Linked DNA regions of Homo sapiens. The protein of the gene in region 1 purifies or fractionates together with the protein of each later gene. This does not show direct contact. Each region holds a gene or a part of one and is shown on either strand. Other genes may lie near its edges.

What was found.
Region 2: the proteins of RDH11 (region 1) and ESYT1 purify together in Homo sapiens (affinity purification with mass spectrometry; 2 studies listed by BioGRID and IntAct, with this or other methods). This does not show direct contact.

What each region holds. Positions count from the first base shown.
Region 1 is NC_000014.9:67,679,468-67,694,465, reverse strand, and holds part of RDH11 (retinol dehydrogenase 11), read left to right. Parts: intron 1-1,413; coding exon 1,414-1,532; intron 1,533-1,872; coding exon 1,873-2,028; intron 2,029-3,221; coding exon 3,222-3,326; intron 3,327-4,044; coding exon 4,045-4,254; intron 4,255-9,261; coding exon 9,262-9,451; intron 9,452-14,998. UniProt on the Homo sapiens protein: Retinol dehydrogenase with a clear preference for NADP. Displays high activity towards 9-cis, 11-cis and all-trans-retinol, and to a lesser extent on 13-cis-retinol.
Region 2 is NC_000012.12:56,132,185-56,145,280, forward strand, and holds the end of ESYT1 (extended synaptotagmin-1), read left to right. Parts: intron 1-24; coding exon 25-148; intron 149-236; coding exon 237-413; intron 414-534; coding exon 535-617; intron 618-1,232; coding exon 1,233-1,281; intron 1,282-1,403; coding exon 1,404-1,490; intron 1,491-1,596; coding exon 1,597-1,689; intron 1,690-1,895; coding exon of another isoform or gene 1,896-1,925; coding exon 1,926-1,997; intron 1,998-2,157; coding exon 2,158-2,244; intron 2,245-4,559; coding exon 4,560-4,709; intron 4,710-5,033; coding exon 5,034-5,189; intron 5,190-5,314; coding exon 5,315-5,491; intron 5,492-5,647; coding exon 5,648-5,730; intron 5,731-5,841; coding exon 5,842-5,890; intron 5,891-5,998; coding exon 5,999-6,088; intron 6,089-6,219; coding exon 6,220-6,315; intron 6,316-6,583; coding exon 6,584-6,655; intron 6,656-6,742; coding exon 6,743-6,829; intron 6,830-10,100; coding exon 10,101-10,241; intron 10,242-10,393; coding exon 10,394-10,548; intron 10,549-10,650; and 12 more. UniProt on the Homo sapiens protein: Binds calcium (via the C2 domains) and translocates to sites of contact between the endoplasmic reticulum and the cell membrane in response to increased cytosolic calcium levels.

The DNA.
Region 1 (14,998 bases):
GTGTGTGTGTGTGTATATATATATATATATATATTCCAGGAGCTGTATTCCCAACTCAGCAGGGTTATGGGAGTCGGGCCAGAGCTGGACTTTTATAGTTGTCTCTTTCATTCCTGCTGGTTAAGGAGAAGAAAGAACTAAGTACAGGTCCTACTAAGTTGTCACTCCTGGAGCTACATACAGTAAGGGGATGTGGGAAACAGCCTAGAGGCTTGTTTTCTGAGGAGGGAGGTGATGGTTTGTGGGGACCATGAGTTAATCTGCCTCCCTGTCAGCATTTTCGCACTATGCAGGTAGCTTCAATGGCTAAGAGTATGTACCTTGCAATTCCAAGTTCAATGAAAAAGGCTGAAATGCTCTTTAAGAATGCATCTCCTGGTCAACAGATTGTTTTAACCAGAGTCCCAACATTGCCAAGAAGAGAATAGGCCAGTCTGAGAACCACCAATCTGTGTTTGTGCATTCATTCATTTGGAAAAGGCAATATAGTATAGTACTTAGAAACAAGCACTCTAGGCTGGGCTTGGTGACTCACACCTGTAATCCCAGCACTTTGGGAGGCTGAGGTGGGCGGATCACCTGAGGTCAGGAGTTCGAGACCATCCTGGCCAGCGTGGTGAAACCCTGTCTCTACTAAAAATACAAAAATTAGCTGGGCGTGGTGGCGCATGGGTGAGGGGGTGAGGGATGAGAATCGCTTGAACCTGGGAGATGGGGGTTGCAGTGGAGGTGGAGGTTGCAGTGAGCCGAGATCACACCATTGCACTCCAGCCTGGGCAACAAGAGCAAAACTCTGTCTCAAAAAAAAAAAAAAGAGAAAGAGAAAGAAAGAAACAAGGACTCTAATTACACAAAGCAAGACTTGAATCCCAGCTCCCCTTTGTACATACATAATCTTCTCTTTGTTTTAAGTGTGTATGTGCATGCGTGTGGGTGTGTTTTTTTTTTCTTGTTTATTTTGTCCCAGAGTCACAAGCTTTCATAATTTTAACTTTTTGTATTGGATTAGCCATTTCTCAAGGCCATAAAATGCCAGTTGTGGACAGATTGACCTACAGAAACTAGTTATTTCTTCTTCTGGGCTGAATCTTGTGATTTCCTAAGTCACAAGTGCCTTAGAGAGCTCAAACCAAAGCCAGGTGCCTGGCTAAGCAGGTATTCATCCAGTTCTTGTGCTGCAGAGAACAGCTGTAAGCTTTGCCCTTGTAATAGAATCACTTTTGTCTTTGAGCAAAAGCAGAAAACTTTTGTCATCTTTCCTCCAACTTTCCTTAAATGGACACTGTTTCCTTAAAAGGACAACAGTGGAAAGAACTAAAGCAAACCTCAGCCAGAAGACACAGGGAGTTGCAGGAACCTACTGGCTGAGACAGTAGAATGAAGAATTGATGAGCTCTCCTTCTCTGTCTGCAGGAAAATGCTGTCCAGTGGGGTGTGTACATCAACTGTTCAGCTTCCTGGGAAAGTAGTTGTGGTCACAGGAGCTAATACAGGTATCGGGAAGGAGACAGCCAAAGAGCTGGCTCAGAGAGGCAAGTTCACCTCCTTTCAATTCCCTCCTATTACTGCTGTTTTACCCCTCACAGTAATGATGATTCATTCTCATTGTTTCTTCCCAGTTTTGGAATTCAAGAACACCTAAGGATTCCACTGATTTGCTGATCTGAAACTAGTACTATGCTCTACATATAATGGACCCTTAATGAATATTATTAATTTATTTTTCTTTACCTATTTGCTAATCAGATACCTCTGTTGTGAAGAAAGGGTAAAAATGTGTGTTTTTTAAAAAAATGTTGGAAATAACATTAGATTTATAATGCCAGCTCAAAAACAGAGCTGACCATTTCTCTTTCATATGTTGGCTGACAGGAGCTCGAGTATATTTAGCTTGCCGGGATGTGGAAAAGGGGGAATTGGTGGCCAAAGAGATCCAGACCACGACAGGGAACCAGCAGGTGTTGGTGCGGAAACTGGACCTGTCTGATACTAAGTCTATTCGAGCTTTTGCTAAGGGCTTCTTAGCTGGTAAGTGTAGAACTAGAGAGACTATGTTGTGGGTCTTGAGGTCAACATGGCAGATTCAACTAAAAGGAAAAGGTCCCTCTTCCTCATAGAAGTGGTGGATAAAATATAGCCAAAAACTTCTGTAGCTGAACTCATAGTCACTGGGACACAATTTATGTCAAAGGGATATCTTCCAGAGGCAGAAACAAAAAATGAATTCAAAACGTCATAGCAGTGAGTAAGAGCTGAAGCCAGAAATCTCATGGGAGTCTCAGCACTCAGTACAGGCTTTTTAGGGTCTGGGGTCTAAATACTTACACAGGGATAGGAGATGAGGCCACAGGCCTTTGAGAGCTGGAGCTGTATTTGAGGTTCTACACAAAGTTGAGATTCACAAAGGGCCATCTGGTCCATAGTATAGAAGCTAATAAAAATCCTGGCCACCAGCTCAGAGACATGACAAAGAAGTTTACCATCTCTTTAGACATAGATGGATACTTACCTGCAAAAAATTAGAACCCGAGCTGGCATCATGTGTGGGGTCTGAATTCGTACCACCAAATGATATGAGGATATTTATGGGTTTGATTTTTGTATGTGTGTGTAATACTCTATGGAAAATTAACGTAAAAACCTGTAGTGTCTCATCAAAAGCAAATCCAAGAGCACTCTATAGGCATATCCCCTTATAGCCCAGGGATCTAGGCCTCCAAGGAAAAAGCTTTCACTGGTGTGAACTCATAGTCATAAATTACAAACCACATGAGGAAATGAACCATGAGAGAGAATTGGAAGATGCAATAAAGAGGTGAAGCCAGTATTTATTTCTTTGGGGACCTGAATCCCAGGGCAGAGGTACATAGAGAACATTCTTTTTTCTCTTGCTTTGGAATCTTTCCATTCAGCTTGGGAAGTCTTTTTATTGAGAGAGGTGGATGCAACAATTCCCAAAAGCAGTGAGTAAGTAGCTCCTGAACTACAAGGATCTGGAAGGTCATTTGGTAGTATAAAATGGAATTCTGCCCCATAGTAAAAGTAGGTGGGATTCAACTAAAGTCTTAAAATGAAAAACAATAGAAAATAAATATGAAGGAAAAATGGAGGGAAGATTGAAGTCCTGCATCCTCATTTTCAAAGCCTGAGCGTGAGGCAGCTTTCTAAGATGTAATAGCCTTGGCTAGCCACTTCCACGCTCCATCGTCTTGTCCCTGCAGAGGAAAAGCACCTCCACGTTTTGATCAACAATGCAGGAGTGATGATGTGTCCGTACTCGAAGACAGCAGATGGCTTTGAGATGCACATAGGAGTCAACCACTTGGGTAAGAAATCTGGCCTTATCACAAAGCTAGAGAGACCCAAAATTCTCTTTGGGAAACTTAGGGGTCAGATTGAGGCTTCTTGTTGTGTGATTGAACCTCAGGACCATAATAGACCATGTGTGCATAATAGTTTGGTCCTACCTGATAGCTGAGGAATACCTGAGGGCTGCTCCAGGTTCTGCCCGCTTTTTAATCTGTGATTTAGATTTGGTTTGCCTTGGCGCATTTTTTAACAGACTAATTGGTTTAGGGGACTGTGTTGCTTTCTTAGTAGTGATCCTTGTGGCCAGCATCAGGTATAGGTCATCTGCTCTTTTTTTGTAAAGACAGGGTCTTGCTATGTTGCCCAGGCTGTACTTAAACTCCTGGCCTCAGGCACCTTCCTGCCTCAGCCTCTTTAAGTGCTGAGATTACCGGCGTGAGCCACCGCACCCAGCCAACCAGCTCTTAAGAATGAGATTAACCAAAGTAGGAATGAGCTGGGACTTCATATTCACATAGTCTAGACCTATCTCGCTCATATAAGGATGCCTCATGTCTTTGGCTGTTGTTATTTCCCTAAACCTTCATTAAACTTGTTTTCTAGTTGATAATGAAAAGTTGGAGGGAAAGACCTTATTTCTGAATTATCTGCCTCCCATAGGTGAGGCCTGCTCACCACGACTCCTGTCATTCCTACATGGCCCTGAACTTCATTAATTCTAGTATTTCTCAACAGGTCACTTCCTCCTAACCCATCTGCTGCTAGAGAAACTAAAGGAATCAGCCCCATCAAGGATAGTAAATGTGTCTTCCCTCGCACATCACCTGGGAAGGATCCACTTCCATAACCTGCAGGGCGAGAAATTCTACAATGCAGGCCTGGCCTACTGTCACAGCAAGCTAGCCAACATCCTCTTCACCCAGGAACTGGCCCGGAGACTAAAAGGTGGGCCTAGAGGAAATGAATGTGGAGACATGAGTCAGAGAGAGGCAGGTAAAAGCCACAGGAATGGAAACTGTTTCCAGAGCCCATCACCTGGAGAGGACCTGCTTCCGTGGCTATAATTGGGTACAGTTTTAGTAAGTAGTCTACAACTGAATATTGGAGGTGGCTGGCTGGGACAGTGAGACTCTGACTTTGAGTCTGAAGGCCTGGCTTTACTACTTACTAGCTGTGTGATCTATAGCAAGTTACTTAACTTTTTTTTTTTTTGAGACGGGATCTTGCTCTGTCACCCATGCTGGAGTGCAATGGTGCAATCTCGGCTCACTGCCGACCTCCACTTCCCAGGTTCAAGTGATTCTCCTGCCTCAGCCTCCTGAGTAGCTGGGACTACAGGTGCGTGCCACCAGGCCTGGCTAATTTTTGTATTTTTAGTAGAGACAGGATTTCACCATGTTGGTCAGGGTGGTCTTGAACTCGTGACCTCAGGTGATCCACCCACCTTGGCCTCCCAGAGTGCTGGGATTTTAGGTGTGAGCCACCGCACCTGGCCATTACTTAACTTTTAGGACTTCCTTCTTCATATGTAAATGGGACTACTTCACAGTTTATTGTCATAATTAATTCAGGCTTCATAAGCAAGTCAAGATTTTTTACTCACAGTGAGACTGAGTATGAGGGAAGGACCTGAACTGGCACTAGATAAAGGCAGTAGACTAAAACAGGTACTGGGAATATGGAGGGGCAGGGTCTCCCTTGCAAAGCATCAAATAAGAGGGAAATATATGCTTGAGAAGGGGAATTTCCAGTCACAAATACACAGAGGTCCTTAGCACTGTCTACTCTGGATTTCTAATAAAGAGAAGGGAAATCGAGGGTGAACTGTGCTAGGAATTGAGGCAGGCAGAATGCAGGCTCAAGGAATCAGGCACAGGTGCCCTATAGTTGGAATAGGATCATCCTACCAAATGAACATCTGTGAGATGGGAAGGAAACTGGTGGTTAGCTCAGTCCTTATGCCCAGTCTGTGCCCAGGGCATGACATCTTTTATCAGTTTAGGATAGATAAGGGTAACTGGATGGTGAAAACTATCCAAAGAGTTGATCAGGGAGCTAGGGTGGCCTGGAGGTGGAAAGATGGGTCCAGTGGTGAGAATTCACTAATACATGAATGAGGTGACTCTGATAGTTGTGAGGATTCAGTGGAAAATCATTATGGTGCAGTAAAAGAACCCTGGTTTGACAGAAGATTCATTCATTCAGCCATTCAGCAGACACGTATTCAGTGCCCATGTTGTTCCGTGCACTGGGTTAGGGGACAGGGGATGAATTGGTGAACAAGATAGGTATAGTCTCTTCTTTGGTTTGGTTTACATCTAACGGGGGAGAAAGACAATTAGCAAGTCTTTATACAAACTATTAAATGTAAAATCAGTCTAGTAATGCATGAATAATTCTCATTGTAAAAAGCTCAAATAAGGTCAGGCACAGTGGCTCACACCTTTAATCCCAGGCACTTTAGGAGGCCAAAACCGGAGGATCACTTGAGGCCAGTTCAAGATCAGCCTGGGCAAAATAGTGAGACCTCATCTCCTCTACCAAAAAAAAAAAAAAAAGAGTTCAAAGCATATGGAAGTATGTAGAATTAAGGTGAAAAACCACCTTCATTTATTCCCCTCTTCCCCCTGCTCTTCTCCCTTCATATGACCATTATCAACAGCTTGTGTGCCCCTTTCCAATAATTTTCCTATGCATTTACATATGTATGTATCATGCACAAGGAACTGAAACTCCAACACAGTATCTTGGAGATCTTTCCATTTAGTACATATGGATTTACCCCTTAATTGTATTGGCTGTGTTGTATTTCGTAGTATAGATGTGCCTTAGTGTATTTATGTATTTCCTTAACAACATCTGGATTGTTTCCTTTTTGTTGTGGCTGTTTAATTATAATTGTGATAAATGTTATAAAGGAGAAGTACCAGGACTTACAATGGATTTTAGTGGGAGTCTTGGGGGGACCTTATTCAGTCTGAGGGTTCAGGGAAGACTTTCCTGAAGAAGTGAGTTGCATGCTGAGCCCCGAAGGATGATTAGAAATTAAATGGATTAGAGGTACTGATAGAATGTGGAGGCTGAGGCCGGGCGCGGTGGCTCACACCTGTAATCCCAGCACTTTGGGAGGCCGAGGCTGGTGGATCACCTGAGGTCAGGAGTTCGAGAACATCCTGGCCAACTTGGTGAAAGCCCTGTCTCTACTAAAAATACAAAAATTAGCCAGGTGTGGTGGCGGGCGCCTGTAATCCTAGCTACTGGAGAGGCTGAGGCAGGAGAATCGCCTGAACCTGGGACAGAGTTTGCAGTGAGCCAAGATCATGCCATTGCACTCCAGCCTGGGCGTCACGAGTAAAACTCTGTCTGAAAAAATGAAAAAAAAAAAGGGCCGGACGTGGTGGCTCATGCTTGTAATCCCAGCAATTTGGGAGGCTGAGGTGGGTAGATCACCTGAGGTCAGGAGTTCAAGACCAGCCTGACCAACATGGAGAAACCCCATCTCTACTAAAAATACAAAATTAGCCGGGCATGTTGGCGTGTGCCTGTAGTCCCAGCTGCTCAGGAGGCTGAGGCAGGAGAATTGCTTGAACCTGGGAGGCAGAGGTTGTGGTGAGCTGAGATCATACCATTGCACCCCAGCCTGGGCAAACAAGAGTGAAACTCCATCTCAAAAAAAAAAAAAAAAAAAAGGAATATGGAGGCTGAGAAACATTCCAGGCAGAAGGAGGAGAATGTACAAAGGTCCGGGCTCAGTTTGAGAAACAGCGAAGGTTACCATTGGTAGGTTGTAGAAAGCAAGAGTAATAAAGATCTGAGCTGAGACTGGTGAGGTAGGTAGATGCCAAACCCTTAGAGGCCACAGTAAGGATTTTAGTGTTTATTCTAAGAGCAATGGGAAACGGTTAAAATTAAAGCCTTTTCAAAATGGGGGCAAGAGGGGTTGCAGCAGTTGATTTCATCAGCAGAGGTGAGAAATGAGGGTAGTTTGGACTAGGTGGTGGAATTGGAGGGTAGTAGAAACTTCTGAGAGAGATTTGGTTTGGGAAAGCTTGTTGACTGGAGATGCATGCTTTAGGTGGGCATTCATCAGAACCCTTTTGCCTGATTGGGCATGTCGGGAACACTGCAAGAACCAGGTTTGGCTTTAAAAGTAGAAATCAATTTGGGACCTCTGAGTCTGCATTACTATGGGTCATCTAGGGAGATGTCGAGTAGGCAGTTGGGAATAATACAGCTGTGTCTGCAGCTGTCAGTCCACAAAGACCAGAAAAATTCTGTTTCTTCAAAGCTTTACACCAAAACTCATTTGGCAGCAAAACATTTCCTGTACTAGGGAGATTAGATTAATAGGCAGTGTATGTATACATTTCATATTACCTTTCTACAATCAGAGAAAAAAATTGAAGTATGTCTGGCCCCAGCGTTTTCCATAAAGGATTGGGGGCCTGAAATAGCATGTGCAAAAGTATCATTTAGCACTTACCATGCATCAGGCACTTTTTTTTTTTTTTTTTTTTTGCACCGGTGTCTCACTCTGTCGCCCAGGCTGGAGTGCAGTGGCACGATATCGGCTCACTACAACCTCTGTCTCCCTGGTTCAAGTCATTCTCCTGCCTCAGCCTCCCAAGTAGCTGGGATTACAGGTGCACGCCACCATGCCCGGCCAATTTTTTCTATTTTAGTAGAGACGGGGTTTCACTGTGTTGCCCAGGCTGGTCTATAACTCCTGAGCTCAGGCAGTCCACCTGCCTTGGCCTCCCAAAATGCTAGGCTTATAGGTGTGAGCCACCACGCCCAGCTGCATCAGGCACTCTTTTAAGACCTTTAACATATATGAACTCATTTAATCCTCATAACTACCCTGTGAGGTTGTAAGTATTATGATTATTCCCATTTTAGAGATGAAGAAATGAGTCACAAAAGGGAACTTGCCCAAGGTTACACAGCTAATGAGTGGAGCCAGGATTTGAAACTGGGCAGTCTGTCTACAAAATCCATGCCCATAACCACCACATTGTGTTGACTCCCAGTGTGTCTGCAGTTCAGAGGAGCAGTTTGGACTGTGGACAAAATGTGAGCACCATAGAATTATGGAGAGGGAGTCTGGTGAGCCACGAGAACTCCAACATTTAATGTTTGTGTAGAAGATGATGAACTGGTCCAGAAAACTGAGACAGAGCAGCCAGAAAGGTTAGGAAAACCAGAAGTGGCATAGGCTTATGGAAGCCAGTGAAAAAGAAGACTTTAAGAAGGGGATGGGCGCCTGTAATCCCAGCACTTTGGGAGGCCGAGGTGGGCAGATCACTTGAAGTCAGGAGTTCAAGACCAGTCTGGCCAACATGATGAAATCCCGTCTCCACTAAAAATACAAAAATTAGCCTGGTGTGGTGGCGCACCCCTGTAGTCCCAGCTACTTGGGAGGCTGAGGCAGGAGAATCGCTTGAACCTGGAAGGCAGTGGCAGAAGGAAGATCATGCCACTGCACTCCAGCCTGGGCAACACAGCAAGCCTGTCTCAAAAAAATGAAGGGGATGGGGTGGGTGTGGTGGCTCATGCCTGTAATCCTAATACTTTGGGAGGCCAAGGTGGGAAGATTGTTTGATGCCAGGAGTTCAAGACCAGCCTGGTCAACATAGGGAGACCCCATCTCTAAAAAAGAAGGGGGTGGTCAACGATGTTAAGTGCTGCTGAGAGGATGAGTCTTGGCTCTGCTGATTCCTGACTTGAGTTTCCAGTCAGAAATACACAGAGGTCCTTAGCACTGTCTACTCTAGAGCCTTCTTAGATCTGTGAGATGGAAGTATAAATTACTGTGAGCAGTACTTCTGATGTCACCATGGGCAAAAGAGTCCATATGTGAAGGTCACATGCTTATTTACATCCTTTTCTGTTTTGGGCTATTCTGCAAAATCAAGTCCTGTCTTACCCTCTCTTCATGCCACCCCCAACCAGGCTCTGGCGTTACGACGTATTCTGTACACCCTGGCACAGTCCAATCTGAACTGGTTCGGCACTCATCTTTCATGAGATGGATGTGGTGGCTTTTCTCCTTTTTCATCAAGACTCCTCAGCAGGGAGCCCAGACCAGCCTGCACTGTGCCTTAACAGAAGGTCTTGAGATTCTAAGTGGGAATCATTTCAGGTATGAATGTTATCTCTTTTTGCAGATGAGATTTATTGCTCAAAGGAGATAATTTGGGTTTGTCTGGGTATACCCTTTTTTAAAAGTACATTGTCTCATATAGCTTTTGTCTTTTAACTCTAGAGTTTTTACCTTTTAGTAGGGGAATTTGACTCTCTTTTGTAATAACTGCTACATTTGATTTTATGCCATCTTTTATACTGATAATTATGCATTCTGTTTGTTTTCTTCCTGTCTTTGTTATGTCAGTCCAGTTTTCTTTATTCTTTTTTGGATTCCTAATTCTATTGTTTTACATTAAAAAGAATTTAAAAAGAATTTGAGGCCAGGCGCAGTGGCTTACGCCTGTAATCTCAGCACTTTGGGAGGCCAAGGTGGGCAGATCACCTAAGGTCAGGTGAAACTCCGCCTCAAAAAAAAAAAAAAAGAATTTGAATCTGCATTTCTCTATTGTCCTCAGGATTGAAATACTATGGACTCCCCTCTCAAATAAGCGAAGACATTTAAAATGATTTAAATGTAGAGAATTTTGAATATAACACAGGGTTAGATAAAATAGTGCACTGAGCCTGCATATAATGGAGCCTCAGCTACCATTAACCCATGGCCAATTCTGCCCTATCCCCATTCTCTACCCCTTTCCATATTTTTCTTCTCCCATATTATTTTGAAGCAAATCCCAGGCATCACATAAGATCAAAATTTTAACATGTTTTTACCTCTACTTCAGGTTATTGTTGAAATGACCTGAAATTTTAAGGAAGTAGCTGAAAATAGCATTAAGATTGGAAAGAAAGGCAGACAGATTATGAGAGGCCTATAATGCCAGCCTTGTGGAGGAGCCCCAGAGTTGTTTCAGTAGACAGACAAAATCTGGTCTGTGCTTTAGCAACTTTGTTTCATGAATGAATAATTAACCTAGTGAGAGAGAGAGTTTCAGAAAGTTGTAATGAAAGGAATGGTAATGTGAAAGAGGCCCTGAAGCAGCAGAATTTTTATCACTGGATGATTAATTAAATGAGGGGATGAGGGAGGCTTTGCTAACCTGAATTTCAAGCCTGAATGAGGTTGATGATGACATTAACTAAGACAGCAGACATGGAAAAGTAATGTGTGGAACTTAGGGTTCTTGGATTCCAAAGCAGTTGAAAGGGACTTTGTCTAGCTTAAGCAAGAAGGAAATTTATTAAAATATTAGTAGGGAGAGGAGGGACCCCTAGGTTGAAAGGGAAGACTGAAGAGCCAGGCTAAGAAGTGTCAGAGTGGCAGTCAGCCAGCCGGGGCATTGCTGCTAGAGTGAGCGAATGCCAGCTATCTTTAGTGTTTAGGTTGTATTGCTTATCATCCATTCTCTAGGGAGGAAGCATTGGATCTCCTTCCTCCTATCCCTTCATTTTTACTCTTTTGATTAGAGGCAAACAGGGACTTTATTAATGCTCTCTTCAAACTATATTGAGGGGAAAAGGTGATTCTGCAGAAGGAAATCAGGTTGCTATTGCCGAAACAAAGTAGAATGTTCAGCCAAAGAGTAACAGTTGTCCACTGTGTAACAAACCTGGCTCTGTACATGTTGCATGTGTGTTATCTATAAGGCATGCAAGTAGAAATGTATAGCAGATAGTTGGAAATGTGGTTCTGAAGTATAAGAAGATAGATTTATATAGTATACTGGATTGATTTTCCAAGAGTGACTGGATTCTTCTTCCCTAGAGATTTTAAGAAAAAAAAAAATAACCCTTTATCTTGGTTTTGACTGAGTGGTTTAAAGAAAGTCAGCTCTAAATCCATAACTTACTATTGGATTGACTTTTGAAGAGCCTTTCCTGTGCTATGGATTCTTAATTCATTTTGAAGATCCAACAGCAGCCGTGTAGACCACCATCAAGAAATGAACATAAAAGTCTTTTGATTGAAGCCTTAAGATTTTTGCACTGGCTCTTCTTTCTGCCTGCAACCACTAGTCTGCTTTATGTCTCTAAGAATTTGCCTTTACTGGACATTTCATATAAATGGAATCATATGGTATGTGGCCTTTTGTGACTGACTTCTTTTACTCAGCTTAATGTTATCAAGGGTCATCCATGCTAAAGCATGTGTCAGTACTTCATTTCTTTTTATTGCTGGATAACATTTCATTGTATAGATTTGCCACATCTTATTTATTCATTCATCAGGTGATGGGCATTTGGGTTTGCACTTTTTAGCTATTTGAATAATACTGCTGTGACCATTTGTGTAGAAATTTTTGTGTGGACATTTCTCTTGGGTACATGGAAGTGGAATTTCTGGGTTATATGGTAACTGTGTTTAACTGCTGAGGAACTGCCAAACTTTTCCAAAATGACTGCCCCATTTTACATTCCCACCAGCAGTCTATGAGTATTCTAATTTCTTCACATCCTCAGCAACACTTGTTATTGTCTCTCCTTTTGAGTTTAGCCATCCTAGTGAGTATGAAGGAATATCTTGTTTTTATTTTCATTTCATTTTCCTACTAATGATGTTGAACATTCTTTCATGCGCTTTTTGGTTCATTTGTTTCTTTGTTGGGGAAATGTCTATCAAGTCCTTTGCCCATTTTTAAGTTGGATAATTGTCTTTTTATTGTTGAGTTACAAGAGTTCTTAATAGTCTAGATGCGAGTTCCTTGTCAGATATATAATTTGCAAATATTCTCTCATTCTGTGGGTTGTCTTTTAACTTTCTTAATGGTATCTTTTGAAATGTAAAACTTAAATTTTGATGAAGTCCAGTTTATCTATTTTTTGTCACTTGTGCAGTCATATCTAAGAAATCATTGCCTTACCCAAGGTCACAAAGATTTACTACTGTCTTTAGTAAAGACAGTTTTCTGTTACTAAACAGAATACCACAGACTGGGTAATTTCTAAAGAAATTTACTTAGCTCATGGTTCCGGAGGCTGAGAAGTCTAAGAACATGGTGCCTGGCATTTGGTTAGGGCCTTCTTGCTGTGTCATAATATGGCAGAGGGCATCACATGGTGAGAGGGCAAGCAAGAACAAACCCACTCCCATGATAGTGACATTAATCCAGGTATGAGGGCAAAGCTTTTATTAATTAATCTGTTCATGAAGGCAGAGGGACTAAGTTTCCAACATGTGATTTTTTAAGGGATACATTCAAACTATAGCAACCCCTATGTTTTCTTCTAATAGTCTTATAGTTGTAGCATTACATAGGTCTGTGATCTGTTTTGAACTATTTTTATTTTATTTTATAATTATTATTTTTTTGAGACGGAATCTTGCTCTGTGACCCAGGCTGCTCACTGCAACCTCCGCCTCCTGGGTTCAAGCAATTCTCCTGTCTCAGCCTCCCGAGTAGCTGGGACTACAGGTGCACACCACCATGCCTGGCTAATTTTTGTATTTTTAGTAGAGATGGGGTTTTGCCACGTAGGTCAGGCTGGTCTCCAACTCCTGACTTCAAGTGATCCCCCTCCTCGGCCTCCCAAAGTGCTGGGATTATAGGCATGAGCCACCACACCCGGCCTTGAACTAATTTTTGTATATGATATGAGGTAGGGGTCAACCTTCATTCTTTTGCATGTGGATATCCAGTGCCTTAGCACCATTTGTTGAAAAGACAGTTTTCTACCCATTGAATTGTCTTGGTATCTGTATTAGTCTGTTAAGGCTGCCATAGCAGAATCCCACAGACTGGGTGGCTTAAACAATATAAATTTATTTTCTCACACTTCTGGAGACTGAAAGTCCAAGATCAAGGTGCTGGCCTGGTTGGTCTCTGGTGAGGCCTGCCTTCCTGACTTCCAAATGGATGCCTTCTCTCTGAGCCCTCGCATGGCCTTTCCTCTATGTACACACACTCCTGGTGTCTCTTCCTCTTTTTATAAGGCCCTGTTGGATTAGGGCCCCGCCCTGATGACCTCATTTAACCTTAGTTACCTCCTTAAAGGCCCTCTCTCTAAATACAGTCACACTGGGGGTTAGGGATTCAACATATTAATTTTGGGGGAACACAATTGGAGTATAACAGTAAGCTTGTCAAAAATCAATTGACCATAAATATAAGGGTTTATGTTTCACTTTTCTGTTCCGTTCATTTGTATGTCTGTCCTTATGCCAGTATCACACTATCTTGATTACTATAGCATTGTAGTAAGTTTTGAAATTAGTTTATCTTTTACCTATACTAATTCTTAGCAAAATCCCCCTGGAAATGTCAATACTGTGACCATGCTGATGCCATAGGCACACTTAACTAGCTCTTACTTGGCTGGGCGCGGCGGCTCACGCCTGTAATCCCTGCACTTTGGGAGGCTGAGGTGGGCAAACTACTTGAGCCCAGGAGTTCAAGACCAGCCTAGGCAACATAATGAGACCCCATCTCTATAAAAAATGCAAAAATTAGCCAGGCGTGGTGGCGTGTCCCTGTGGTCCTGGCTACTTGGGAGGCTGAGATAGGAGGATCACCTGAGCCTGGGGAGGTTGTAGTGAGCTGCGATCACACCACTGCACTCCAGCCTGGGCAACAGTGAGACCCTGTCTAAAAAAAACAACCAGAAAGCTCTTGCTGTAGTATTTGATTAGTTTTTATAGCCTACAAGGAACCTTCATGTCAACTGTGTTCTTTGCTCTTAACTGTAACCTTATGAAGAGTATAAGGCACAGTGCAGTGGAGGATGCAGAGGCTTACAAAGGCTGAGTCATTTCCAGAGAGATACAGAGCCTTGTGGTTCTCACTGATGATCTTTTCACTAGGAAATGGCAAGTTGTACTGGTCATACTGGTGAGTCTTCTTAAACAGAAGTACTGATAAGACTTGTTTTGTAAACGTGACGATATTTTGAAATGGTATTTCTCAAACTTTAGTGTGTTCAAGAGTCATCTGGAAAACTAGTTGAAAATAGATTCCTGGACCACAACCCTAGAGATTCTCATTCAGTATGTCTGGAGTAGGGCTGGAGAATTTCTAACAAGCTCCCAGTTGATGCTCCTGCTGCTGGTTTGTGGTGCACACTTTGAATCCCACTGTCTTACTTGACATAGTGTTAAGAGTTTGCATATATAGTTAATTCAGACTTGTCAACTCTTTCACCTTCAGAATTTGCTTAGATACTGAGGAAGCAATTTTCTTGAAATAGTATACTTTTAAAAATTGTTTCCTCACATGACTAAAGATTGTAATACATTCAATCATTTTTTTTAAAACTTTGACTGAATGCTTACCAGATGTATACCAGATCCAGAGAATACAAAAATGAGTCAGAATTGTCCTTAAGAAAATTTTCTGCATCGGAATTATAAAATTATAAAACTTGGAATTACAGGCTGGGTGCAGTGGCTCATGCCTGTAATCCCAGCACTTTGGGAGGCCGAGGCAGGTGGATCACTTGAGGTCAGGAGTTCGAGACCAGCCTGGCCAACATGGCAAAACCCTGTCTCTACTAAAAATACAAAAATTAGCCAGTCATGGTGGCAGGCGCCTATAATCCCAGCTACTCTGGAGGCTGAGGCAGGAGAATTGCTCAAACCTGGGAGGCGGAGGTTGCAGTGAGCTGAGAT
Region 2 (13,096 bases), on another chromosome or scaffold:
ACTCCTTTCTACTCCCCCATTCAGCTCACTCTCTGACACCATGATCATGGACTCCATTGCTGCCTTCCTCGTGTTGCCCAACCGATTACTGGTGCCCCTTGTGCCTGACCTTCAAGATGTGGCTCAGTTGCGTTCCCCTCTGCCCAGGGTATGGCCTTTCCCCCACTAGATAGATCCTTCTCTCAGGAACCCCTTGCTGGGTCCTTAGTTTCTCACCATCTGATTCCTTCCTCCAGGGCATTATTCGAATTCACCTGCTGGCTGCTCGAGGGCTGAGTTCCAAGGACAAATATGTGAAGGGCCTGATTGAGGGCAAGTCAGACCCATATGCACTTGTGCGTTTGGGTACCCAGACATTCTGCAGTCGTGTCATTGATGAAGAACTCAACCCACAGTGGGGAGAGACTTATGAGGTGGGAGAGTTGAGCAGCTCTGTGAAATGGGGAAGCCCCAGGAGGTTGTGAGAGAAGATGCTGATTGGATGATCCTCACAGCTGCAGCCCCATGAGACACTCAGCCTTCTGTGTTCCCCAGGTGATGGTACACGAGGTCCCAGGGCAGGAGATTGAAGTGGAGGTGTTCGACAAGGATCCAGATAAAGATGACTTTCTGGGCAGGTGAGACTCTGCCTGTTAGGATTCTAAAGCCCATGCTGGCCAGGCACGGTGGCTCATGCCTGTAATCCCAGCACTTTGGGAGGCTGAGGCGGGCGGATCACGAGGTCAGGAGATTGAGACCATCCTGGCTAACACGGTGAAACCCCATCTCTACTAAAAATACAAAAATTAGCCGGGTGTGGTGGCGGGCGCCTGTACTCCCAGCTACTCGGGAGGCTGAGGCAGGAGAATGGTGGGTGAACCCGGGAGGAGGAGTTTGCAGTGAGCCGAGATCGCGCCACTGCACTCCAGCCTGGGCGACAGAGCGAGACTCTGTCTCTAAAGAAAAAAAATAAAAATAAAAAAAATAAAGCCCATGCTACCGAGGTTCTGGAGGTAATTATACTCACTTTCTGGGCCTGGGAATCATGTATCATTTTCCTTCCTAACCTCCCCACCCCCAGCCCCTACCATGCACATACTCACGCATGCAGGTGAATATCTTCTGAGAGGAATAAGGGAGTCTGAGATCTGCCAGTCATTTCTGGGTGGGTGAGTGGAGGGCCACTGACATGCTGCTAATTACAACACTACCCTTTTCTTCCTTTCACTACCCTCTCCCCCGCCAACCCTCAGAATGAAGCTGGATGTAGGGAAGGTGTTACAGGCTAGCGTTCTGGATGATGTAAGTTGGGAGAAGAGGAAGGTGGGGGCTGATCTCACCCTTTGGGTAGATAGTAGTTGCTACATTGGTAGGGAAGTAGTTGAGCAGGTATCTGATCTCTACTACATCTCAATTTCTTCTAGTGGTTCCCTCTACAAGGTGGGCAAGGCCAAGTTCACTTGAGGCTAGAATGGCTGTCACTTTTGTCAGATGCAGAGAAACTGGAGCAGGTAAGCCACATGGGAAATAGGAAGCTGGCAGGGGAGAAATAGGTAGCTGGAAGTGTAGGGGACTTGGAACGGGGACCAAGATCTGACTACTACCACCCCTCCCCAGGTTCTACAGTGGAATTGGGGAGTCTCCTCTCGACCAGATCCCCCGTCAGCTGCCATCTTAGTTGTCTACCTGGATCGGGCCCAGGATCTTCCTGTGAGTTTGGCTGGGTGAACAGGAGCCCTGGATGTAACATTCCCCAACCCTGCCTTGCTGAGGATGCAAATGTCCCTGCCTGCTTTGCTCCAGAAGTATCAGCATGTAACATAAGGGTCCCAGGGAGGGGATCAGATCCATCTCAGGGAAAGGATTCTGATGCGATCCCACCTTCCTTCACCAAAACCAAAACCGAATCCCCCAAGATGGTGACCTCTGAATTGTACCCACCACAGCTGAAGAAGGGGAACAAGGAACCCAACCCTATGGTACAACTGTCAATTCAGGATGTGACTCAGGAGAGCAAGGTGAGGGCCAGGACATCATTGTGGGTGGCCAGGTAGGACAGGGAGAGGCCTATTCTTGGGATGGTTTCCCCTTTAGAATGCCTGTTACATGCAGGGGTTTTCTGCAGAAACAGGAATGGTGCTGTGGTATACACCCTTAATCCCTCCTCTACATCTCCAGGCTGTCTACAGTACCAACTGCCCAGTGTGGGAGGAAGCGTTCCGGTTCTTCCTACAAGACCCTCAAAGCCAGGAGCTCGATGTGCAAGTGAGATAATCACCTCTTCATCCCCTCCCGAATACCCTATTCTGACTTCCCAGATCTGTACCATTTCTCCTCTCCTTCTTTTCCCTTGATTCCTATTTTTAATCCATCTACCTAGACTCCCCACCTCCCTGAATATCTCTCCATTGTTCCCCAACTGTCGCTCCAGAATAATATTTTTTTTTTTTTTTGAGATGGAGTCTCGCTCTGTTGCCCAGGCTGGGGTGCAGTGGTGCGATCTCGGCTTACCGAAACCTCCACCACCTGGGTTCAAGCAATTCTCCTGCCTCAGCCTCCCGAGTAGCTGGGATTACAGGCAGGCACCACCATGCCCGGCTAATTTTTGTATTTTTAGTAGAGACAGGGTTTCACCATGCTGGCCAGGCTGGTCTCGAACTCCTGACCTCAGATGATCCGCCTGCCTCAGCCTCCCAAAGTGCTGGGATTATAGGCATGAGCCACTGCACCTGGCCTTAGTTCATAGGTACTTGTTCTTGAATGATTTTATATATGTGTGTCTTGTCTATGAAACTGGCCAGTAAGCATTGTGAAAGCAGATGCTATGTTTCGTGCTTTCTCCATGACCTTTAAAATGCTGAATGTTAACAATTTTATTGAGGCATAATTTACATACCATAGAATCACTCATTTTAGGTATACAAAAATTATTCTGAGGCTGGGCACGGTACCTAAAATGAGTGATTTTATGGTATGTAAATTATGCCTCAATAAAATTGCTAACATTCAGCATTTTTTTTTTTTGAGACAGTTTCGCTTTTGTTGCCCAGGCTGGAGTGCAATGGCGTGGTCTCGGCTCACCGCAACCTCCACCTCCTGGGTTCAAGTGATTCTCCTGCCTCAGCCTCCTGAGTAGCTGGGATTACAGGGATGTGCCACCATGCCTGGCTAATTTTTTTTGTATTTTTAGTAGAGACGGGGTTTCTCCATGTTGGTCAGGCTGGTCTCGAACTCCCAACCTCAGGTGATCCGCCCGTCTCAGCCTCCCAAAGTGCTTGGATTACAGGCGTGAGCCACCGTGCCCGGCCCAACATTCAGCATTTTAAAGGTCATAGAAAAAGCACAAAACATAGTATCTGCCTTCACAATACTCACTGGCCAGTTTCAGTTTCATAGACAAGACATACACATATAAAATCATTCAAGAACAAGTACATATGAACTAAGGCCAGGCATGGTGGCTCACACCTGTAATCCTAGCACTTTGGGAGGCCAAGGCAGGTGGATCACCTGAGGTCAGGAGTTTGAGAATAGCCTGGTCAGCATGGTGAAACCCTATCTCTACTAAAAATACAAAAATTAGCCAGGCATGGTGGTGCGTGCCTGTAATCCCAGCTACTTGGGAGGCTGAGGTAGAATTGCTTGAGTCCGGGAGGCGGAGGTTGCAGTGAGCCAAGATAGCGTCACTGCACTCCAGCCTGGGTGACAGAGTGAGACTCCGTCTCAAAAAAAAAAAAAAAATCAAAAATTTGCCAGGTGTGGTGGCATGTGTCAGTAATCCCAGCTACTTGGGAGGCTGAGGCAGAAGAATCATTTGAACCCGGGAGGTAGAAGTTGTAGTGAGCTGATTTCAAGCACTGCACTCTAGCCTGGGTGACAGAGCAAGACTCTGTCTCCAAAAAAAAAAAAAAAAAAAAAAGGAACAGAAGAATAGCAACAATTACATATGAATTTGTGGGAGTAAAATATCCATAGTATAGGACTAAGGAGGGTCAGAGAAAGGGATAGGCTGGAGTAACTAGGGAGATTTTGTGAAGCAAAAAATTGGATTTTAATTGAGTCTTGAAGGATGAGTAGGATTTAAATAGGCCGAGGGAAGAGAATGAGGACTTTCCAAATAGTGGGAGCAGAATGAACAAAGGTGGAAGGGGCCATGGATTGGGCAGAGGACTATAAAAGATGGCTCTGGCCGAGGTGGGCGGATTGCCTGAGCTCAGGAGTTTGAGACCAGCCTGGGGAACACCATGAAACCCTGTCTCTACTAAAAAATACAAAAATTTAGCTGGGCGTGACGGCATGCGCCTGTAGTCCCAGCTATTTGGGAGGCTGAGGTAGGAGAATGGGTTGAACCCAGGAGGTCGAAGTTGCAGTGAGCCAAGATGGCGCCATTGCACTCCAGCATGGGCGACAGAGTGAGACTCTGTCTCAAAAAAAAAAAAAAAAAAAAGATGGCCCTGAGTGGAGCAGGAGGTTTGTGATTGGTACAGAGAGGAATGAAGTTGGAGCCATGTTATCATTTTCACAGTATGCCTCCCTTTCCCCTAATCCCTTCACTACAGTCCTTCCTCCTGTGCCTGTAGGTGAAGGATGATTCCAGGGCCCTGACTTTAGGAGCACTGACGCTGCCTCTGGCCCGCCTGCTGACTGCCCCAGAACTCATCCTGGACCAGTGGTTCCAGCTCAGCAGCTCTGGTCCAAACTCCAGACTCTATATGAAACTAGTCATGAGGGTATGGAAATAGAGGAGGTACTGAGGTGTGGGGGAAAGGCCTGTTGATTCTTTGGTATTAAGAGTAAGGAAAGGGACCCCCCTAAGATTAAAAGAGCTAATACATGTAGAAGTGCCAAGCAGGCACAAAAACATATATTGATCTGACTGGTGGAAGGAATGGCTTATGAGTTGAGGGGGTGTGGAGGGAACCCTGTAGAGATGAGCCCAGCCAGGGCAGCACCTAGTTCCCCTGTCACAGCCCCTCCTCTACCCCACCCCACATGCTTTGCCTGCTGGTGACGAGCTGCACTTCTTTGATTCAGCATCATACTACCCTTCCTAGATCCTGTACTTGGATTCATCAGAAATATGCTTCCCCACGGTGCCTGGTTGTCCTGGTGCTTGGGACGTGGACAGTGAGAATCCCCAGAGAGGCAGCAGTGTGGATGCCCCACCTCGACCCTGTCACACGACTCCTGATAGCCAGTTTGGGACTGAGGTGAGTCTATATCTGGAAAGGACTAGGGTCTGTTTGCCCCGCTAAGTATGCAAAGCCTGTTTCAGGGCAGATTCTGACAGGTCTCTCTCCCTTTGCCATCTGGCACCCCCCCGTCCCTTTTGCAGCATGTGCTTCGGATCCATGTATTAGAGGCCCAGGACCTGATTGCCAAAGACCGTTTCTTGGGGGGACTGGTGAAGGGCAAGTCAGACCCCTATGTCAAACTAAAGTTGGCAGGACGAAGCTTCCGGAGCCATGTTGTTCGGGAAGATCTCAATCCCCGCTGGAATGAGGTTTTTGAGGTCAGAATTGAGTGGCTGTGACTCCTGGTTCTGCCCCATTTTTCCCCCAATCCCAAAAGTGGTCCAGAAACCTCTGAGGTTCAGTTGACTGGGGGGTCCAGTCATTTGCAGAGGAAAAGGAGAGAATCTTTCATCTGCACTATTTTCTCCCACTAGGTGATCGTCACATCAGTTCCAGGCCAAGAGCTAGAGGTTGAAGTCTTTGACAAGGACTTGGACAAGGATGATTTTCTGGGCAGGTGAGAGCATAGGAGTCTACGTGAAAAACAGGCTGGGGCTCTTTAGGCCATGGAGTCTGGCCTCCTTGGTTCTCACCATCTAGCTTTTGTCTTAATCTTTCTCTTCAACAGGTGTAAAGTGCGTCTCACCACAGTCTTAAACAGTGGCTTCCTTGATGAGGTGAGCATTGAATTAGAGTCAACAACCCCTCCTGATCCTGCCCAAGCTTCATTCTCAAAGTTCTCCTGTCTGCATATCCCCAAGTCTTCACCCTGCCTACTTCCACAGTGGCTGACCCTGGAGGATGTCCCATCTGGCCGCCTGCACTTGCGCCTGGAGCGTCTCACCCCCCGTCCCACTGCTGCTGAGTTAGAGGAGGTAGGGCAGGAGACTTGAGGAAGGAAGGGACCCAAGGTGGGGCAGGATGAGCTCTTCTCTTAGCGTTCAAGGCACATGCCAGAACCCAAGGTGTCAGTTACCACTCCCCAGCCCCGTGTGCCCCTCCACAGGTGCTGCAGGTGAATAGTTTGATCCAGACTCAGAAGAGTGCGGAGCTGGCTGCGGCCCTGCTATCCATCTATATGGAGCGGGCAGAGGACCTCCCGGTGAGATCCCGCTCCCCATGCCCCATAACTTCCTGGCCCTTCTTCCACCTTCCTCCGGTTTGGATGGTCCTGGAGTATTTAGAATAAGAAAAATGGCCCCTCTCTTTCTGAGGGTAGTGCAGGGGTGGGAAAAGTTGTCTGTTCAAGGCCACGGGTAGTGGCTGCCAAGTAATAATGGAGACATGGCTGCTGGCTGTGGATATAATTTGTGAGGGGGATCTGCCTAACTAGGTCCAAATTTAAGACTAACACAGTATTGTCTTTCTAGCTGCGAAAAGGCACCAAGCACCTCAGCCCTTATGCTACTCTCACTGTGGGAGATAGTTCTCATAAAACCAAGGTATGAAGAAATGCTGCAGGGTAAAAATGGGAGGGATAAGAGAAATAAGAGTATCAGCTACTGATCATAAGCCCTCATCTCCACCAGACTATTTCGCAAACTTCAGCCCCTGTCTGGGATGAGAGTGCCTCCTTTCTCATCAGGAAACCACACACTGAGAGCCTAGAGTTGCAGGTACTGTAAATTCATTCTTCAAATATTTAGCAGATTTCTGCCATGGCCAGGCAGGAAACCAGGCACAGAGCATTCAGAGATGAGATAAAAGGTTGACTTTTTTTTTTTTTTTTGAGACAGAGTCTTGCTCTGTCGCCCAGGCTGGAGTGCAGTGGTGCTATCTTGGCTCACTGCAAGCTCCGCCTCCTGGGTTCACACCATTCTCCTGCCTCAGCCTCCCAAGTAGCTGGGACTACAGGTGCCCGCCACCACACCTGGCTAATTTTTGCATTTTTTTTAGTAGAGATGGAGTTTCACCATGTTAGCCAGGCTGGTCTCGAACTCCTGACCTCAGGTGATCCGCCCACCTCGGCCTCCCAAAGTGCTGGAAATACAGGTGTGAGCCACCGCACCCGGCCAAAAGATTGACTTCTTATCTTTATGGAGCTCACACTCTGTTTTGGGAGAAAAATAACCAGATGAAACTTTCAGAATGATAACTGAGGTAAAAGGCACTGTGGGGAAGAAAGGAAGGGTTCAGGCTGGGGAAAGGCTGGAGATAGAAAGGCATCCTTAGATGACCCCTGAGCTTGAGGGTAGATTTTTTTTTTTTTTTTTTGAGACTAGAGTCTCACTCTTATTGCCCAGGCTAGAGTGCAGTGGCGCAATCTCAGCTCACTGCAACCTCAGCCTTCCAGGTTCAAGCGATTCTCCTGCCTCAGCCTCCCGCGTACCTGGGATTACATGCGCGTGCCACCATACCCCACCAATTTTTAGTAGAGACGGGGTTTTGCCATGTTGGCCAGGCTGGTCTTGAACTCCTGACCTCAGGTTATCCATCCACCTCAGCCTCCCAAAGTGCTGGGATTATAGGTGTGAGCCACTGCACCCGGCCTTTTTTTTTTTAGACAGGGTCTTACTCTGTCGCCCAGGCTGGAGTGCCGTGGTGCAATCAGGGCTCACTACAGCCTCAACTCTTGGGCTCTAGCAATCCTCCTACCTCAGCTGGGATAACAGGTGCACACTACCACACCTAGCTAATTTTTGTATTTTTTTGTGGAGATGAGGTTTTACCATGTCATCCAGGCTGGTCTCGAACTCCTGGACTCAAGCATTCTGCCCGCCTCGGCATCCCAAAGTGCTGGGATTACAAGCGTGAGAACCGCGCCCCAGCCTAAGGGTAGATTTACTGGTTCTTTCGGACCACGAAAAGAAGAGCAGGAAAACTCTTTAGGCTGAGAAAAAAAATGGAGGAGAGAGAAGGCATATTTATTATAGATCAGAGAGGCAGGCAGAGCAAGATCATAGGAGCTGTTGAATAGTATGCTAGAAATATGGATTTTATCCTAAGGCTTAGGGAAGCCTTTGTTTATTTTATTTATTATTTTTTTGAAACAGAGTCTTGCTCTGTTGCCCAGGCTGGAGTACAGTGATACGATCTCAGCTCACTGCAACCTCCCTCCTGGGTTCAATCGATTCTCCTGCCTCAGCCTCCCGAGTAGATGGGATTATAGGTGCCCGCCACCACGCCCAGCTAATTTTTGTATTTTTAAGAGAGACGGGGTTTCACCATGTTGGTCAGGCTGGTCTCTAAGTCCTGACCTCAAGTGATCCACTGCCTCGGCCTCCCAAAGTGCTGGAATTACAGGCGTCAGCCACCACACCCAGTCAGGGAAGCCTTTAATGAGAGGTCACATATCCAGATTTGCATTTTGGGAAGATCATAGGGATAAGAGGGTAAAGAATGGACTGGAGAGGGACAACACTGGGGGCAGGGAGATCAGTGAGGAGACTGTTAGAGCAGTCAAAGCAGGAAACGACTAAAGCCTGATGGGATTTGAAGATTGCTGTGATATGGAGCAGGTGGAGGAGCAAGGAACAGCCTAGACACTAACTCTGGGGTTTTTGGCACAGGGTGGCTAGATGGATAAGGGTGCCGTTGCTGACTTAGGGAGTGCACAGAGAGGGAATTTTGGAATTTGAGATCTCTGCAGGACATCCAAGAGAAGACATGCAGAAAACAAATCTATTGTCCATGAGGTGTTCCTCCCTTGCCCTCTTATTGGAACATCATGAGCAAGCAACCACTCATAAGTGTAGTCATGGGTGAGATCTCTTAGGCAGCGTGGAGAGTGAGGAGACAAAAGATGGCCATGAGCCATCTTACAGGTGTGAACCACTGTGCCCGGCTGAAATTAATAGAATTTAAAATAATGTAACTTAATGCTAGCAGAGTAGAAAGGAGGTACAAATGAGCTCAGTTCTTCATCTTTTATAGCAGGGAATCAATAGATACAAGCATATTAGAATTCCGTGAGAACAAAGAAAACAGGAGGGTTTTAAAGGTTGTTACATTTGGAATATGGCAATAGGAGTAGGATGGGCAAGAAACATTTACTTTTAGTTCTGTTTTTACTGTTGTTTTCTGTATGCTGTAGGTATTACTGGTATAATTTCTGAAAGCTAGGTTGGGCGCGGTGGCTCACGCCTGTAATCCCAGCACTTTGGGAGGCCAAGGCGGGCAGATCACAAGGTCAGGAGATCGAGACCATCCTGGCTAACACGGTGAAACCCTGTCTCTATTAAAAATACAAAAAATTAGCCGGGTGTGGTGGCGGACACCTGTAGTCCCAGCTACTTGGGAGGCTGAGGCAGGAGAATGGCGTGAACCCAGGAGGCGGAGCTTGCAGTGAGCTGAGATTGCGCCACTGCACTCCAGCCTGGGCAACAGAGCGAGACTCCGTCTCAAAAATAATAATAATAATTTCTGAAAGTTTATGAGGTAAAGATGGTCCACTCTACTCTGGTTAAGAAAGGAAGGACAGGCCAGACACAGTGGCTCACACCTGTAATCCTAGCAATTTGGGAGGCTGAGGTGGGTGGATCACCTGAGGTTGGGAGTTTGAGACCAGCCTGACCAACATGGAGAAACCCCAGCTCTACTAAAAATACAAAATTGGCTGGGCGTGGTGGCAGGTGCCTGTAATCCCAGCTACTCAGGAGGTTGAGGCAGGAGAATCGCTTGAACCTGGGAGGCGGAGGTTGCGGTGAGACCAGATCACGCCATGCACTCCAGCCTGGGCAACAAGAGCGAAACTCTGTCTCAAAAAAAAAAAAAAGGAAGGAAGGACAGAGGGAGGGACTAGCAACTGTTACCATGGCTTCCCTGCCTTTCTCAAAGGGAAATCTCACCAAACCACCTATGAGTCCAAGCGTTTGGACCTTTAAAACACCAGGATTAACTCATTTGTTGATGCATTCGCCTCTTGATCATGGTCCTGTTGCCCCACAGGTTCGGGGTGAGGGCACTGGCGTGCTGGGCTCATTATCCCTGCCCCTCTCAGAGCTCCTCGTGGCTGACCAGCTCTGCTTGGACCGCTGGTTTACACTCAGCAGTGGTCAGGGGCAGGTGCTACTGAGAGCACAGCTAGGGGTGAGTGACAGGAGATGGTGGGCAGGATGAGAGGGAGGAGGGGAGGGCCTTCACAGGTGAGGGACACCCAGGAGGGTGGGAACAGAGGGCCGTGTCCTTAGAGTGAGGGAACTGAGAGAACTCTGCCCAGCTCACAGCTTTCTTGCCCCTAGATCCTGGTGTCCCAGCACTCGGGAGTGGAAGCTCATAGCCACAGCTACAGCCACAGCTCCTCATCGCTGAGTGAAGAACCAGAGCTCTCGGGGGGACCCCCTCACATCACCTCCTCAGCCCCAGAGCTCCGGCAGCGCCTAACACATGTTGACAGGTAAAGGGCTGGGACAGGAAGGTGGGACGCAGTCAGAAATAAAAAGTATTACAGGTTCACTAGGCTCTAGCTTTCCCCAGACCTACTGATATTTCTCCACAGTCCCCTTGAGGCTCCAGCCGGGCCTCTGGGCCAGGTGAAACTGACTCTGTGGTACTACAGTGAAGAACGAAAGCTGGTCAGCATTGTTCATGGTTGCCGGTGAGACCCCATCCCTCCTGTCCTCCAGATCGCCTCCATCCCTTCCCTCAGGTTACCATATCACCTACATCCTCCTGTTGTAGGTCCCTTCGACAGAATGGACGTGATCCTCCTGATCCCTATGTGTCACTGTTGCTACTGCCAGACAAGAACCGAGGCACCAAGAGGAGGACCTCACAGAAGAAGAGGACCCTGAGTCCTGAATTTAATGAACGGTCAGTCAGTGGGCATTCAGGTGGAGAGATGGCAGGCTTGGAAAGGACTCCTGGCCCCTAACATCCAGTCCTACCCCAGGTTTGAGTGGGAACTCCCCCTGGATGAGGCCCAGAGACGAAAGCTGGATGTCTCTGTCAAGTCTAATTCCTCCTTCATGTCAAGAGAGCGTGAGCTGCTGGGGAAGGTAAGAGGGCAGGATGGCAGGGCAGAGGTGAGGGCTGGAAGCTGCTGGCACCAAGGTTATAGTCCCTGTGAGGAAGGAAGTACCCCACGTGATCCTTTAGAGGTGACTCACCTCTGCAATGGTTTGGGACGAGTATGTGATGAAGGAACATGGTCTTTGGAGATTTCAAAACAGCATCATCAGAATGAGATCCTGTCTCAAAAAATAAAAGAAATAACATCTTTCCCCTATCATCTTCCAACACAGGTGCAGCTGGACCTAGCTGAGACAGACCTTTCCCAGGGTGTAGCCCGGTGGTGAGTGTCTGCGTGGGTGGGGGATGGTCTGGATATTTCAGTGGGAGAAATTCCAATCACAGGAAAGGAAAAAAAGATACAATCTGAGCAGAGAACCATTGATTCTATCAAGTAGAGAAGCCCTTGGATCGTGTCTCATTTATAAATATGATGACACAAGAGTCATCTTTCTACATGAGCCCTCTTTTCACAGGTATGACCTGATGGACAACAAGGACAAGGGCAGCTCCTAGGAGCTGGCGAGTCCCAGCCTGACTGCTCTGTCTTCCTGCCTTCGTCTCGCTCCATCACCGCCTCAATGTGATGAGCCTAAAGCTAGGGTCCAAGGGCAGAGCCTGTGCCCTTCAGCCCTTTCACCTAACAGGCCCATATTCGGGCCTTTGCCTGACCAAAGAGAAGAACCGTATGTTCCCTTTACTGCACGGCCTTTATCCTTCTGGGCCCCTGGGGCGGGGACCTGAGCTGGCTGTTTCCTGCTTTGCCTGCACATTGTTCTCCCTTCCTCCCAACTCCTCAGGGCCTTCTGTATCTGTGCCTGGCCAGTGGCAGCACTAGCAGTGGTATTAGCTTATGCCAAATACAGCTTTGGAAGGATCTTTTTTTCTTTAACTAGATGGTCACCTTCTTCCCTACCACACATGGGTGGGAAGGTGGACAGGCTAACCTCTCCAGCTGTGAGCCTCTTAGACTACTGCATGTAGCAAATGTTCAGCAGCTCAGGCCCCCATGTCCAGTTCTGTCCCCACTGTCCTCAACCCTGTCCTGAAAATTCTACTGCTTTGATGGCTGGGGCCAGTCTCTTGTCACTTTGGAAACTGAGGACGCGTGGATTCTACTCAAGCCTCCAAGTAGTGGCATATCAGTCTTGGAGCTCCTAGCTGGTGATACGGAGAGGGCTTTGGAGGACTTGGGACAGCAGGGCCAATTTTTTTGCCCAAGTGCCTAGGCTGCTAACTCACTGACTAGAACTTAATCTGGTACTTTACAGTTTTGCACCAACTCTGCCAAGCCACTGGATCTTACATTAAACATCATACTCAAACCAGCTGTGGTTCTTTTCCTTAAGGATAGGGAATCAATCTACCCATCTGATGTTTATTCCTACTGTCAAAAGCCTTTATCCAATTCGTGAATCATGTCAGTTTAATTAATGGTCAAAGCCTACTAAGGTTGCAGCCACCAAGAATGTTGAGGATGGTCAAGAGACCTGTGTAAAGTAGCTGCTGTTGCATTTCAGGTGAGACTCATTTCCAGTCACAGTGATGAACTCTGTTACCCATCCAACTTGTCTGCTGACCACTATAGGCTTTCCAGGGAAGGGATTCCTAAACCTGGTAAACCTGGGAGCTCTGTGCCACTGCACAGGCTCCTGGTGTCTCTGTGCCACTGCACAGGCTCCTGGTGTCTCTGTGCTGTCAGGGCATGCTCAGCTACATTCAAAAGGGCTTCAGGCCCATCTAGCAGGAGCTGAGAAATACACCCATTTCGATCATCTGTACACCTTGAACTCTGCTCCTTGCAAGAACTTTCCTGGAATGCAAGCTAGAGAAGCTGTGCTCCATCTGTTCTGCCAATTGAAAGGAGAGAGATGGACAGAGTGAACTACTGAAAACAGGGTCACTGGCATAGGAACTTGGGGATTTCATAACTG